2 linked regions of the Homo sapiens genome follow. The protein of the gene in region 2 binds, or shares a complex with, the protein of the main gene of each other region. Each region holds a gene or a part of one and is shown on either strand. Other genes may lie near its edges.

The links.
Region 1: the proteins of BTK (region 2) and BIRC2 are in contact, whole or in part, in a crystal structure (PDB 6W7O), measured with the Homo sapiens proteins. Residues at the interface, in NP_000052.1 of Homo sapiens: Leu483, Asn484, Arg487, Glu488, Tyr551, Ser557, Lys558, Arg562, Lys595, Met596, Tyr598, Glu599, Arg600, Phe601, Thr602, Glu605; in NP_001157.1 of Homo sapiens: Pro280, Ser281, Ser282, Asn301, Asp302, Asp303, Arg314, Cys315, Glu317, Ser318.

The regions. Positions count from the first base shown.
Region 1 is NC_000011.10:102,363,541-102,371,424, reverse strand, and holds part of BIRC2 (baculoviral IAP repeat-containing protein 2), read right to left. Parts: intron 7,758-7,884; coding exon 7,709-7,757; intron 3,120-7,708; coding exon 2,877-3,119; intron 1-2,876. UniProt on the Homo sapiens protein: Multi-functional protein which regulates not only caspases and apoptosis, but also modulates inflammatory signaling and immunity, mitogenic kinase signaling, and cell proliferation, as well as cell invasion and metastasis.
Region 2 is NC_000023.11:101,382,367-101,390,732, forward strand, and holds the start of BTK (tyrosine-protein kinase BTK), read right to left. Parts: upstream 3,826-8,366; 5' UTR 3,696-3,825; intron 1-3,695. UniProt on the Homo sapiens protein: Non-receptor tyrosine kinase indispensable for B lymphocyte development, differentiation and signaling. Binding of antigen to the B-cell antigen receptor (BCR) triggers signaling that ultimately leads to B-cell activation.

The DNA of each region.
Region 1 (7,884 bases), on a different chromosome or scaffold from region 2:
ATTATCTCAATAGATGCAGAAAAAGCCTTTGACAAAATTCAACAACCCTTCATGCTAAAAACTCTCAATAAATTAGGTATTGATGGGACCTATTTCAAAATAATAAGAGCTATCTATGACAAACCCACAGCCAATATCATACTGAATGGGCAAAAACTGGAAGCATTCCCTTTGAAAACGGGCACAAGACAGGGATGCCCTCTCTCACCACTCCTATTCAACATAGTGTTGGAAGTTCTGGCCAGGGCAATTAGGCAGGAGAAGGAAATAAAGGGTATTCAATTAGGAAAAGAGGAAGTCAAATTGTCCCTGTTTGCAGACGACATGATTGTATATCTAGAAAACCCCATTGTCTCAGCCCAAAATCTCCTTAAGCTGATAAGCAACTTCAGCAAAGTCTCAGGATACAAAATCAATGTACAAAAATCACAAGCATTCTTATACACCAACAACAGACAAACAGAGAGCCAAATCATGAGTGAACTCCCATTCACAATTGCTTCAAAGAGAATAAAATACCTAGGAATCCAACTTACAAGGGATGTGAAGGACCTCTTCAAGGAGAACTACAAACCACTGCTCAAGGAAATAAAAGAGGATACAAACAAATGGAAGAATATTCCATGCTCATGGGTAGGAAGAATCAATATCGTGAAAATGGCCATACTGCCCAAGGTAATTTACAGATTCAATGTCATCCCCATCAAGCTACCAATGACTTTCTTCACAGAATTGGAAAAAACTACTTTAAAGTTCATATGGAACCAAAAAAGAGCCCGCATTGCCAAGTCAATCCTAAGCCAAAAGAACAAAGCTGGAGGCATCACACTACCTGACTTCAAACTATACTACAAGGCTACAGTAACCAAAACAGCATGGTACTGGTACAAAAACAGAGATATAGATCAATGGAACAGAACAGAGCCCTCAGAAATAACACCGCGTATCTATAACTATCTGATCTTTGACAAACCTGAGAAAAACAAGCAATGGGGAAAGGATTCCCTATTTAATAAATGGTGCTGGGAAAACTGGCTAGCCATATGTAGAAAGCTGAAACTGGATCCCTTCCTTACACCTTATACAAAAATCAATTCAAGATGGATTAAAGATTTAAATGTTAGACCTAAAACCATAAAAACCCTAGAAGAAAACCTAGGCATTACCATTCAGGACATAGGCATGGGCAAGGACTTCATGTCCAAAACACCAAAAGCAATGGCAACAAAAGCCAAAATTGACAAATGGGATCTAATTCAACTAAAGAGCTTCTGCACAGCAAAAGAAACTACCATCAGAGTGAACAGGCAACCTACAAAATGGGAGAAAATTTTCGCAACCTACTCATCTGACAAAGGGCTAATAACCAGAATCTACAATGAACTCAAACAAATTTACAAGACAAAAACAAACAACCCCATCAAAAAGTGGGCAAAGGACATGAACAGGCACTTCTCAAAAGAAGACATTTATGCAGCCAAAAAACACATGAAAAAATGCTCATCATCACTGGCCATCAGAGAAATGCAAATCAAAACCACAATGAGATACCATCTCACACCAGTTAGAATGGCAATCATTAAAAAGTCAGGAAACAACAGGTGCTGGAGAGGATGTGGAGAAATAGGAACACTTTTACACTGTTGGTGGGACTGTAAACTAGTTCAAGCATTGTGGAAGTCAGTGTGGCGATTCCTCAGGGATCTAGAACTAGAAATACCATTTGACCCAGCCATCCCATTACTGGGTATATACCCAAATGACTATAAATCATGCTGCTATAAAGACACATGCACACGTATGTTTATTGCGGCATTATTCACAATAGCAAAGACTTGGAACCAACCCAAATGTCCAACAATGATAGACCGGATTAAGAAAATGTGGCACATATACACCATGGAATACTATGCAGCCATAAAAAATGATGAGTTCGTGTCCTTTGTAGGGACATGGATGAAATTGGAAATCATCATTCTCAGTAAACTATCGCAAGAACGAAAAACCAAACACCGCATATTCTCACTCATAGGTGGGAACTGAACAATGAGATCACATGGACACAGGAAGGGGAATATCACACTCTGGGGACTGTGGTGGGGTGGGGGGAGGGGGGAGGGATAGCATTGGGAGATATACCTAATGCTAGATGATGAGTTAGTGGGTGCAGCGCACCAGCATGGCACATGTATACATATGTAACTAACCTGCACAATGTGCACATGTACCCTAAAACTTAAAGTATAATTAAAAAAAAATAGAAAAAAGAAAAAAAAAAATTTATTGAAGGAATAAATGATTACTCAAAATACTTGTTTTGAGAGGCCGAGACTTAATACTATCTGGACGAATACAAAAATCAGTTTTCCTGTTATCCTTGGATTGGGCAGGTGGTTCTCATCAAGCCCCAGAATTTCATTGTAAGTTCTATTTTGTGTATGAGGATCACTTAGCAAGGATTAGGGAGTAAAGTATCCTATTAAAAATATGATTTGCAGAAACTTAAAAAAAAAAACAGGTTGAAAAAAGACCTGCATCCAACTTTAACATCTTGCTTTTTCAAAACAATTTAAATTTGTTATGTATGAGAAAGAAATGGAATACAGCTCAAGAAAGAGCTTATTATGCTAAAATTCTCTGATTGGCATAAATCAGAGAACCTCATCCGAAAATAAATGTATAGAAAAAAGCGGCAGTCAATGGTTCTCAACTAGAAGCAATTGAAAGGGGTAGAAAAGGAGGGATGGTTTCGAAATGACTGGAGGACTGCTACCAGCAGTTAGTGGATGTGAAACAAGCATGGTGTCCTGTAACATGTGAGACAGTCCTAAGAGCTCCACTGAGAAACAATGCAGGTGACTAACATCCCCAAATACCTGATGCCATTTCTTCAGCTTGTTTTTCCTTCTCCTCTTCTCTTTTTTCATCTTCAGCATTAAGAAGTGCTGACACAATATCATTAACTGTTTTATAGTTCTCTCCAGTTGTCAGGATTTTACTTTGAACTGTTTGTTTCACCAGGTCTCTATTAAAGCCCATTTCCAAGGCAGATTTAACCACAGGTGTATTCATCATGACAGCATCTTCTGAAGAACTTTCTCCAGGTCCAAAATGAATAACTATTTGAAAAGAAACATGCTAATATTAAATTCCACAAACATAAACCTATGGAAAAAAGTATCATGGCACAATCTTTATTCATCCTTTACTCTCATATTCTGGTAAAGGAGATGAGCTATATGCATCGATTACCTATAACTCCAATAAAAGTTTGAACTTCATAATGGTCAAATGAGAATACAATTAATATGCTATACTTTTTACAAAACCCACCTCTCTGGCTACATCCTAGACTTACTTAATGAAAGATTCTCTAAGGATAAGAATTAGGAATCTGTATCTTTTGAATATTTCCCAAATGATTCTGATGTATAGTCATTTCTGGAAACCAATATGCTATACGAACTTAGAAGTGAGAAATAATCTTCTCCAGCCAGGAAAGTGGGGGGAAATCACAAAGACTTCATGGAAAAGTGGCGCATTAGAGTTTGGACTTGAAGGATGGACAGGGTCTAGACAAGTGGATTGCTGAGGTAGAGAGAATAACATAAACAAAAATGGGAAGTATAGTAAAATAGAAGATCAGTTCACCCAGAAGATGTAGTGAAAAAGTATGGCTTCAGAAGTAATTAAGGCAGTATGATTTTAGACAGTGACAGATGCTCTGAAGAAAAAAGTAGTGTAAGGTCATTAAAAGAAACCAGGAAGCAGGAAGTCATTTTAGATAGGGTAGTCAGGGAAGCATTTTCTGCTAAGAGTCAATGCTAGCCCATATGATACTTTTATGAAAAAATACAAAAAGACATAATTCTTCAAGACACTACTGCCATCTTCTGGAAACTTATAATAAATATACAACGTCAACAATGTCCCCTCTTGTTCAAACACGCGTGGAATCCGTGTCCGAAGAAATGGCACCAGAACAAAGATTTAAATAACAAGGAATGAGCTCTATTTCATTTTTAAGCGCATGCCTTGAGGAAATACTTTATGTTCAAGATAAGAGACACATTAGAGGATCATTACAGCAATATTTACAGCAGAAAAAAAAAAACAGAAAATAACAGGAATAGCTCTCAATAGGGAATGGATAAATAAAATGCAATATATGCTGGACTACTGTGAAAAAATTTAAAAATATACAAACGAACTAAACTGGTATATACCTAGCCCATGCTACTGAGCTCTGGGTATTAGAAGTTAGAAACAGAACTGTATGTAAGCATCAGAGGGGAATTTGGCATTGCCTACAGCATTTAGTTTTCTTTCCCTTATGAAGAATGTATACATCTATTACATGTAAAATTATTAATACTGGGGGGAAAAAGGAGTGAGCTATGGAAATATCTCAAAGAAGTCTTCTAAGCAAAGAGAACAGCAAGTGTAAAAACCTTAAATTGAGGGAAAAGCTTGACATGATCAAGAAACAGAAAGAAGGTGGTAGAAGGTAAAAAAAGGAGGACAATGCCCAGATAAGCAGAGGCTTCCTAAGAGTTTATATTTTATTCTAAGTTTGGTAGAATATTCTAGGAGTGTTTCAAGCATGCAACTGATAAAACTTGACTTGTGTTTTCAGAAGATGACTCTGGCAGCTCGGTGGAGATGTTACTTTAATGGGGTAAACCAGAATCAGGAAGACTTGTTAGGATGTTAGACACAGATGACGGTAGTTTGGATTAGGTTAATAGTGGTGGAGGGCCGGGCATGGTGGCTCATGCCTGTAATCCCAGCACTTTGGGAGCCAAGGCGGGCGGATCATGAGGTGAGGAGATCGAGACCATCCTGGCTAATCCAGTGAAACCCCATCTCTACTAAAAAAAAATACAAAAAATTAGCCGGGCGTGGTGGTGGGCGCCTGTAGTCCCAGCTACCTGGGAGGCTGAGGCAAGAGAATGGCGTGAACCCGGCGGGTGGAGCTTCCAGTGAGCCAAAATTGCGCCACTGCACTCCAGCCTGGGCAACAGAGCAAGACTCCATCTCAAAAAAAAAAAACAGTGGTGGAGATGGTGAGATGTAGTCAGATTTGGCATATGTTATGAAGACAGAAATGAAAAGACTTCTGATAGATTAAATATACAAACTAAAGGAAGGAGAGGAATCAGAGATGATGCCTAACTTGAGCCAACTTTTAATGCTGGGAAATGAGTACCATTAACTGAGATGGGGAAGACCAAAGAAGGAACAAATCTGAGGGATGAAGAATGGGGAAGAAAATTTCCGGTTTGGTCATATTAACTCTACAATGTCTGTTACAGCCAAGTAGAGATTTAAACAGTTAGCTGGACATTCCAGCTTGGGGCTCAGGAAATGGAGAAATAAATTTAAGCTGAGCTATGAGGGGTACTCCAACATTTTGAAGTTTGAAAAAGGAGCAGCCAACAAAGGAAATTGTTCAGGACCAACCAGGGAAATAGAAAACCAAGAGTATGGGGTCTGATAAGTCAAGCAAAAAATGTGTCTTAAGAAAGATGAGGCCAAATGCAGTGGCTCATGCCTGCAATCCCAGCACTATGGGAGGCCGAGGCAGGCAGATTGCTTAAGCTCAAGAGTTTGAGACCAGCCTGGGCAACATGGTGAAACCCTGTATCTACAAACACACACACACACACACACACACACACTTAGCTGAATGTGATGGTGCATGCCTGTAGTCCCAGCTACTTGGGAGGCTGAGGTGAGAGAATCACCTGAGCCAGGGAAGTTAAGGCTGCAGTGAGCCATGATGGCACCTAACCACACTACAGCCTGGGTGACAAAGTGAGACCTTGTTTCACAAAAAGAAAAAACAACGACAAAGCACCCAGTGATTATCAAATGCTAATTAACAGGTCAAGTAGTGGATTTGCTAACACGGCAGTCCCTGGTTACCATGACAAGAACAGTTTCTAGCAGAACAAGTGAAAGAATGAAAGGTGAGGAAGTAAAACAGAGTTAAGCACAGATAAATCTTCCTAGGTATTTTGTTGTAAAGGGAAGCAGAGTAATAAGGTAATAGCTGAATGGGGACATTCATTCATGGAAATTTTCCTAGGATTAGCAAAAGTACATTATGTTTATATGCTAACATGAGTGATTCAGGAGAGGTGGAAAAATTGAAGACTCGAGAGAAAGGGTATGTCACTGCCAAAGTAACCTTCTTAAGTTGACAGTAGGGGATGGAATACAGAGGACAAGTAGAAGTAATGGCCTTAGAAAAGGGCAAGGACAATTCATCTTTTATGAACAAACAGAAAAGTACAAGGATAAATTATGTAGCCTAGTGGTTTTGCTGGTGAGGCAATAAAGCAGCTCTCTTTTGGATTCTATTTTCTTAGGGAAGCAAGATTATAAACTGACAGTAAGGTGGGAAGAGAGTGTTAGAAAATTATCAAGACAGAAAACAAGAAACAGTCATTTTAAAGATTGACAAAGTGATTTTATTAGGACCTATGGTAGAACTGCAGGGCAGCCTACTTAATAGCAGTGGTTATAAATTTTAAGAACAGCCCACACTGCTATCTATCTTTTCTAGGTCTATTACACGGGAGATAGTTGTCATGTACCCAGGTACTCTCCTTCCTATTTTCCAGTACTCTCCTTCCTATTTTCCAGTCAAATACTACCAAATCCTTCATCCAATCCTCCTGAGCCATGGTTTCTAAGACTCATACATCTTGGTCACCTTTCTCTGGTCCAGTTAACAAATCTGCCAATCTTTCTTGAAATGCTGTGCCACAAACAGAATGGCCCTTTGTAGATGTGATTGGCACATAAAACGGGATTACTACCTTAGCCATTTTAGACACAATAACATATGTATATTACATAAATTGACAGATGTGGCTAACATTAAGCTCTAATCAAAAGCTATACTATTTCCTGCCCTTGCACTGAAATACAACATACCTGACTTAAATACCTAACATCTAGTCCAATTCTTGAATCATATGTGAATTGACGTTTTCCAAATCATGCCAACTCACAGCAAACTCTTCTTTTCTGGAGGGTTTATTATTTGCACCGCTTATTTGGCATTGCTTTGAACTATTTTTTGTTTTTCTTTTGCTTATGTCTCATTTCTCCAGTTGGAATGTCAGCACTAAAAGTGATAAGTATAGCACTAGAACAAAAACTAGTACACTTTTAGGGTCCTCCACAGTGTCATTACACTCTCTCTCTCTCTCTCTCTCTCTCTCTCTGTGTGTGTGTGTATATATATATATATATATATATATATATATATATAATATTTATTAGCTGACTTCCCAGTATTTTTCCCTATGGCTTCAGAAACTCTTTTAAAAAATACATACTTTCATTCCTACCTTTTTTTTTGGAGATGGAGTTTCGCTCTGTTGCCCAGGATGGAGTGCAATGGCATAATCTCAGTTCACTGCAACCTCCACCTCCTGGGTTCAAGCAATTCTCCTGCCTCAGCCTCCCGAGTAGCTGAGACTACAGGCACATCACACCCGGCTAAGTTTTGTATTTTTAGTAGATGGAGTTTTACTATGTTGGCCAGGCTGGTCTCGAACTCCTGACCTCAGGTGATCTGTCAACCTCGGCCTCTCAAAGTGTTGGGATTACAGGCATGAGCCACTGCACCCAGCCTATTCCTAAAATTCTTATAAAAATTTACACTCTATACTTAAAATTATCTCATACATACTTGGTGGGTCAGCATTTTCTTCTCCAGTGGTATCTGAAGTTGACAACAGCTATGAAACAAGAGAAAAGTTAATAGGTAAAAGCAGATATCCCCAACAATCTGAAAAGAACAACACTAAAATAAGCTTACTTTAAGTAAATGTATATGTTCTTTTGAGAACTGAGTGATTTATGACC
Region 2 (8,366 bases):
TCCAGGCTTCGGTACAGTAGCGCAATCTTGGCTCACTGCAATCGCTACCTCCCAGTTTCAAGCAATTCTCTTGCCTCAGCCTCCTGAGTAGCTTGGACTACAGCCGCACACCATGACACCTGCCTCGGCCTCCCAAAATGCTGGGATTACAGGCTTGAGCCACCGCGCCTGGCCTTATGTTTTTAGCATTTTACATTTTTCTTCTGTGGTTTTGGAAACTTCTAGGTCTCTGTGATTCATCATCTCTTTTTGTCTTGCATTAGCGACAATATATTCTGGCCAACTGATGATGGAAGGAGAGCCAGAGAGCCAATCTGCAAGTTTATAGTCAGTGCCAGATCAGATCAGTGGTAATACTTTCAATATTCTCCCTCTGCTCTGAGGGTGACTGCTGGGGTGTCTGTCTTTCACTCTGGACTTGTGTGCCCTTTTGGCCTTCTTTTTCAACCTAGTTTTTGTTTTCCTTGGCTTAAACATTTTATTTATTTTTTCCATCGATATCAAAATAACACACGCAGCTGGGTGCAGTGGGGTGCACCTGTAGTCCCAGCTACTCAGGAGGCTGATATTGGAGGATTGCTTGAGCCCAAGAGTTCAAGGTCAGCCTGAGAAACATAGGGAGACCCCCATCTCAAAATAAAACAAAATATAGTAAAATAAAACATGCTTATTGTAGAAAATATGTCAAGTACAGGGATATAAAAAAGAAAAAATCATTCATAAACTCATCCAGAGGCATTAATATATCGGCATATTCCTTCCATTTTTTTCTGTGTGTGTTTCTTATAATATTTGAGATCATATTGCACATTCAGTTAATTTACCTATTTTTCGTAACATCTATGTATGTATGTATGCATGTATGTATGTATCTATCCATCCATCCATCCGTTCAAGGTACCTTTTTCCAAAAAAAGATCTAATGTTCTTATTTAACATTATTCCTAATTATTTTCCCATGTTATTAGGATCTCTATACAAGCATCATTTCCAGAGTCAAAAAAGTATGTGCATTTTGCATTTTGATACATACTGCCAAAATAGTTTCCAGAAACATTGTCCCAATTTCAGTTCCAAATAGTTTTAGAGAGCCCCCTTTCTCATTATCCTTATCTCTTTTCTGGTCCATTTCTAATCATTTTTAAAACTCTGGTTTTACTGCAGACAAATCTTTTTTTTTTTTCATTGAGTCAATGATCTTAAACTCCAGTATATTCCAACTTCCAGCTTGTCTAAAACTTAACTTCTCTTGACTCTAGAATTTCCTTCTTCTAGGGTGAGCTAACAGACTACAGTTTGTTTTCAGTTCAGGGAGGTAGGGCAGTGAGAGGAGCTTCTCCTTGAGATTCAAATAACCAATATAATCCTAAAGACATCTTGTGAGAACTTTCTAAGAGCGGAGAGAAGAGCCTGGTATTAAAGCTTCTGGGTTTCCAATGCTCTCAGATTGCCCTCAGCCACTGCACATGAATCTCCATAGAAACTGAAAGTCACACGTGGCCCAATTGTTTCAGGGTCCTCAGAGGAGTTCTCCCTCCTCCTTCCCCTCCCCAGATGGCTTCATGCATAACCAAGTAGCTTTGGAGTCAAATATGTCAAGGCCTCTTTTCTAGCTTCTTGCTGAGCACTGTGTCACTGAAAATTCTAGTTCTTCCTTATTTTCAGTAGTTAGCAATCAGATCTCAGCAATCAGATCATTGTGGGTGTAGAAGGGGGTATCTGATAACTCTTTGGAGAACGCCCAAACTTTGGTTTTCGAAAGCTGTATCTTCCCTTTATACCTAAGTCACTTCCTGATATGGGTCTAGTCCACTGAAAGGAAACTCTATAGGAAATTTGCTCAAATGGAAATAGCAAATCATAGTGATAATTTAAAATTGCACCAATCCCCCATAACTGGATGGAAAGTTACATTAGTTCGCACCATAAGGAGTTTACAAAGAATTCCAGGGTGGGTGCGGTGGCTCACGCCTGTAATCCTAGCACTTTGGGAGGCCCAAGCAGGCAGATCACCTGAGGTTGGGAGTTCGAGACCAGCCTGACCAACATGGAGAAACCCCGTCTCTACTAGAAATACAAAATTAGCTGGGCGTGGTGGCACATGCCTGTAATCCCAGCTACTTGGGAGGCTGAGGCAGGAGAATTGTTTGAACCCGGGAGGCGGAGGTTGCGGTGAGCTGAGATCCCGAGATCGTGCCATTGCACTCCAGCCTGGGCAGCAAGAGTGAAACTCCGTGTCAAAAAAAAAAAAAAAAAATTCCAAACAAAAATATCAATAGCCATACGCAATGGAAATTTGGACTTCAACACAAGCAAGCAGTTTAAATAGTTTGAATATAAAAGGAGTCAGAATAGACAGGACAAGCCCTAAGGGACACTGTTTGGGTATAATGCTTTAGGTTGCCATGAGTATTTGCATTTTGTGGCTTATTTGGAAAGTGACATTATTTTATCAAATAACTGAGGCTCCAGAGAGGCTGGAGTCTGGGCAACTTATCCAAGGATGTCTTGATTGGGGTCACCAATCACTTTTATTCTAAATGTCATATTATTTGCTCTAGGTAGGCCCTCTGGGGGACATTGGCAGGTCTGAGGCAGAGTAAAAATTATAGCAAATACTGAGATCCAGCACTTACTATTGCCAGGCCCTGTTTTAAAAGCTTTACATGTATTTGCACATTTACTGCTCACAACCACCTTATGGGGAAGGTGCTAGGCAGGCAGGGAGGAGGAAATGGAAAGGGAAAGGAAAAGGGAAAAGAGCGGGGGAAGAAAGGAGCAAGAAAAAGTCAATGCAATTCGGCAATTATTTGTTAAGTGCTAACTGTATGTCAGGGTCTGGTAATCAACAGAACAGAGGAGGGTATAATGAAGAGGGGATATAGGTAGAGAAAAGAGGATGAGTGGGAAGAGGAGGAGGTTGGAGAGGAGGAAAGGAAAGGAGAAATAATGAAGACAAGAGAAAAGCAAGCCATGCACATGGAGGGCAATGGTAAGAGGAGAAACCTTTGCCACAACCTCAAGGGTTGGCCGCACTGTCTGGGCTGAGGCAGAGGCTGCTTTCTCCTGGCCCAGTCTTTTACCCATTGTTACCACGAGGTTGGCACAGCTTCCACACAGTCCTTTAATAAGCCAGCTCTGACCCTGGCGACATTTGGCCTGGTACAGCTCAAGGCAGGTAGCCTACACCCTGGCCTAGCCAGGCCTTTCCCTAGCTCACAAAGGTCAACTTCATAACGTGGAGCGTGAGCTTTTACCATGTTCTCAGAGAATCTGCCTCTTAGTATTTCTTTTTCTAAAGGCTTCATTGACCCATGTATCCCTATTGAGTCTTCAAGCACTATTTGACAGAAGGGCTTGTTTTTATCTGACTGCTCCCTGCAATATTACTTTTCCACTAAGTTTGCCAGAGGTACCCCTTTCTAACATTTGCTACCTGTTCGGATGGTCACCTCATGTCACATTTTTCTCTTCCTGTTCCGCCCACCCTCAGCCCTTGTCGGAAAGGACCCTTTCGGCCTCTCTAATCACCAGAAGGGACTGCCAGGGCCTTGTGCTGATGACACTCCCACCCTCCGTCAGCCTCCTCCACTAGCTGATAAATGGCACCAGCCATGCTGTCTCTCTGGTTTTTAGGGGTCCCAAGCAAGGTACATTGCTGCTGCTGCCCAGCCCCTGCCATACCCCAGACCCACCTCAGTCCTGACTTAATGCAGGTAGCTTCCCAGATGCATTGAGATGCCAGGACTTGGAAGGTGGGACTCGATCGCAGCAGACACTGGCCCTGGAGACATATTCTTACAGTCCAGAGAGGAAGGACAGTCTGAGCAAACCCCACCCTTTCACAGCCACTCAGTTCCCTTTTTTTGCTTCCTGACCTAAACCAATGTCTTTTTTTCTTCTCAGCAGCATGCTATCTGGTTCCCTGCTGCCGTCCCTATTCCACCCCCTCAACTGTCCCCGCCCTTCATTTGCTTGGGACCTCTGACACTACTATCTTGAGTCTATCTTTGAAAGAACCTTTCTCAACATGACTGGGGCCACTGAGACTCTAGATGGGGCTGGCCTGAGCAGACAGGTCATCAAGCTATCCTCCCAGAGGTAAAGGGACAACATACCTAAAGTACTATGAAGACAGTCAGCACAGGGAGAGGGGCTTACAGGAAAGAGGAGAGATGCTGGGGGCTGGCAGACACAGAGCAAAGAGACTGGCCAGGAAGAGCGTTTTTCGAGTCTCCTGTCCTCCGGGGCAGAGGAGTCTCAGGGACACACAGTTGAACTTGATAGTGAAGGGACCCCAAAGGACAAAACAAGACAGAGGTAGAGACAAGACTTCCCCGTGCTGAGTCATTTTCTAAGAAAGCATTTTTCCCCTACAGATAAAAATGTCGGAATATAAGCCCACAGAAATACTTGTGCCCTTCCCCATTTTCTGTGGATGTTGACTTTCTCCATTTAAGATTTGGCCTCAGGGATTAACTCTCAATGTCCACCTTTCTCTTGAGTCCTGTAAACCGGTAAAGCAGACTAGGTATGTCACTTGAAGCCTGGAGGTTTTCTCAGGGGCCCCCTACATTATGCTCCAACTGCAATGATTCCCCCAGGGATTCTCCTAGGAAATGCAGCCAGTATTGAATGCAGACCATGATGGTGGAGCCCCTGCTGACTGATCTGCCTGCCCACCTTGACACCTCGGGCACTGCCATATTTCCTTGCCCCAAGGCACTGTATCCTAATGTAGAAACAGATCACAGGTCCCACTACAATTTCATCCGAAGTTTTAAGTCAACAGGACCTTATTTTTTTTTCTTTATTTTGTCTAAAAAACAAACAAACAAGCAAACAAAAAAAATGGGGTATATGTGCAGAAGGTGCAAGTTTGTTACATAGGTATATGTGTGACATGGTGATTTGCTGCACCTATTGACCCATCCTCTAAGATCCCTCCCCTCACCCCCAAGCCCCAACAGGCCCTGGGACCTTTTTTTTTTTTTTTTTTTTTTGAGACAGGGTCTTGCTCTGAAGCCCAGGTTGGAGTGCAGTGGCGTGATCATGGCTCACTGCAGCCTCCACCTCCTGGGCTCAAGTGATCCTCTCACCTCAGTCACCCTAGTACCTGGGACTATAGGCACACATCACTGTGCTGGGCTAATTTTTCTACTTTTTGTAGAGATGGGGTTTCACTATGTTGCCCAGGCTGGTCTCAAACTCCTGGGCTCAAGCGATACTCCTGCCTTGGCCTCCCAAAATGCAGGGATTACAGGAGTGAGCCACCTCTCCCAGCCATCAACAGGACTTTAAATAAAAACATTTAAAGTATTTGTAGACTGATGATAGAGTGGTTGATACTCACATTTGCACAAGACAGATGGACAGCATGTGTTGTATGATTGCCTTACTTTATTGACAACGTCTATCCTTTCGCTAGTCACCCCCAATAGCTGTTCCACTCACCTGCCTGAGGGTTGGCCACAGGCATTCATCTTCCCTCCTCTTTTCTTCAGTTTTTTTTTTTTTTGAGACGGAGTCTTGCCCTGTCGCCCAGGCTGGAGTGCAGTGGCATGATCTCGGCTCACTGCAAGCTCCACCTCCCGGGTTCACGCCATTGTCCTGCCTCAGTCTCCTGAGTAGTTGGGACTACAGGTGCCTGCCACCACGCCTGGCTAATTTTTTGTATTTTTAGTAGAGACGGGGTTTCACCATGTTAGCCAGGATGGTCTCGATCTCCTGACCTCGTGATCCACCCGCCTCAGCTTCCCAAAGTGCTGGGATTACATGCGTGAGCCACCGTGCCCAGGCTCTTTTCTTCAGTCTTATGCCACTTGTTGTCACATGCCCTGTCCTTTCTCAAGATCCATCTTGGGGTGGGGACTGGGAGGTGATAGGCATCCAATGGGAGAGCTAAACAAGAGAGAGAGAGGAGCACAAGGGAAAAGAGCAAGTAGACGTAGGCTTTTCTTCACCCTCTGCCCACGACCACTCCCCTAGCACACTCATCCATACTGACAGAAAGACTGTACTCAGATAGTGCAAATAAACAGCTGAGTGTCACCTGAAGAGATTCCCAATGCAATATAAGGTTCTATTCTTGGTGCTATCCTGTTCAGCATTTTTATTGATCATCTTTGAGGAAAATATAAAAAGTAGCCCGGTTAGTCTATGAATGGTGCAAGGCTTTGTGTGCTAGACTGGATGACAGAAGAGGGCAATTAGTTCCCAAAAAGATCTTGATCACCTGGTGTGAGAAGCCAAATTCCACAAAGTGTATTTTACCAGGGCTAAAGGTGATGTCTCATAATTGGGCCCCAAATTTGAACTTCAAATGACTCCAGGAGAAAGTGGAGTAGCAGTAGCATTTGTGAAAATGGTTCAGGGGTTTTTGCTGATAGTAATCAAAAGGCATGTCATCAGTTAACATGGCTTCCAGAAAAGCCAAGGTGACATTGAGGCTTCCTTATGGAAGTAAAATATCTAGACAGAGGAAGGTAACATGCCACTTACTCTGCAAAGCCAGACCACACCTAGAGTCCTGCATTCAGTTCTGAGTGCCTCGTCTTAGGGGAAATTAATGAGCAGGAGCATGTCCAAAACAGAGAACAGCTCAAGCGATCCTCCCACCTCGGTGTCAGCATTGGTGTACAAACTTTCACTTATAGGATGTATAAGCTCTGGGGATCTAATGTGCAATATAGTGACCATAGTTAATAATACTGTATTATTGAAATTTGATAAGAGAGCAGATTTTAAGTGTCCTCACCACCCCCATGGTAACTATGGATGGTGATGGATGATAGATGTGTTAATCAATTTGACTGTGGTAATCATTACACAGTGTATACACATATCAAATCATCATGTTGTACACCTTGAATATAAACAATTTTTGTCAATTAAATATTTTTAAGTAAACAAAAACAAGCAAAACCCCCACAAAGCCACATAACACCAGATATGATAGAAAGAACTAAGGTTGATTAAATGAAGAGGGGCCATGTTCACGGTCTTCATATTTCCATGTTACTAACATAAACCCCTAAAGGCCAGTGAGATTGCTTAAGAATCTGGAAAGAAAAAGAAAATGCTGGAAGTTTGGCAAAGAAATTTTCAGGAAATGTAGCAGGTAGTGGTAATATATTTATTATCTCATTCCCAGAGACCACCCAACAAAAAAGGGGGTGATCAGAGTGTCAGCTCAGGTCCCACGCGTGTTCCTGGAGGGTTGTGCAAGCAAGATACCCCAGACTCTCACGGTTCTTCAGCCCCTATTCCACTGCCACCTCCTCCTGTGTCTCAGCCCAATTCTGTCTCCTCACCATCCTCTACACTGCAGATGCCCCTGCTTCCTTTGTATGATGTAGTGGTTAAGTGCAAGGCTATAGTGTTAGACTACCTAGGATCAAATTCCAGCTCCACAAAAAAATAACAACCTGTGTGACTTCAGGTAAGTAAACTTAACATCTCTTGTGCCTCAGTTTCCTCACCTGTTAAATACTAATACTGGTATATACCTCCTGGGGTTGCTGTCAGGATTAAAAGGGGTAGTATGTAAGGTGGTTAGGAGAATGCCTGGCATATAGTAAGTGCGCCATAATTTTTTTAGCTATTATAATTACCAGGCCACAACAGCAATATTTTATAATGTTAAAGGAACGCGGGCTCTAGAGTCAGTCTACTTGGGTTTGTATCCTAGATTCACTAAATACCGTTGACATTGGGCAAATCGTTTAACATCCTACAGCCTCAATTTCTTAATCTGTAAAATGAGAATAATAGTACCACCTGTCTCCTAGAATTATTGTGAGAATTGTATGACACAATCTATTTAAAATGTTTAGCACCCTGAAGTCTTTCTATGCTGGACTCTCTTGAGACCTAGTATATGCCTTCTGCCAGGTTTGCAAGGAAGGGAAGAGCCGCTAGGTACTTTCTACTTCTAGGCTTGATGATTGCTATTACAGGAGCCAAACAATTTCATTGTCACTTTTCAGAACCTAGAGCTGCTGACTTACTCCCTCAACAGAAGGGTGCTGCTTTAATGCCAATCATTGTTCCTTTTCTTCAAAGTACTTAGTTCATAATTGCACATTTATAAGCCTATTAGATTACTGTACCTCTCCCCCGGAACAGTGCCTGCCACATAATGGGCATCCAATAACCATTTGTTGAATGGACCAACTGGCCATGTGATAGATGAACTGGAACAATTGGCTCCCTCCAGGTCTTCATTGAATTAGCAGTTTGCTGCGAAAGGTGTTCCCAGTGACCTTGAGGTGGAACAGGAATGGAACGTGGAGGTGGAGGACCCCTTCATTCGACCCTAGTCCTGGCTTCCCTCGGGGACGGGGAGGCCAGAGGATCTGGGAAAA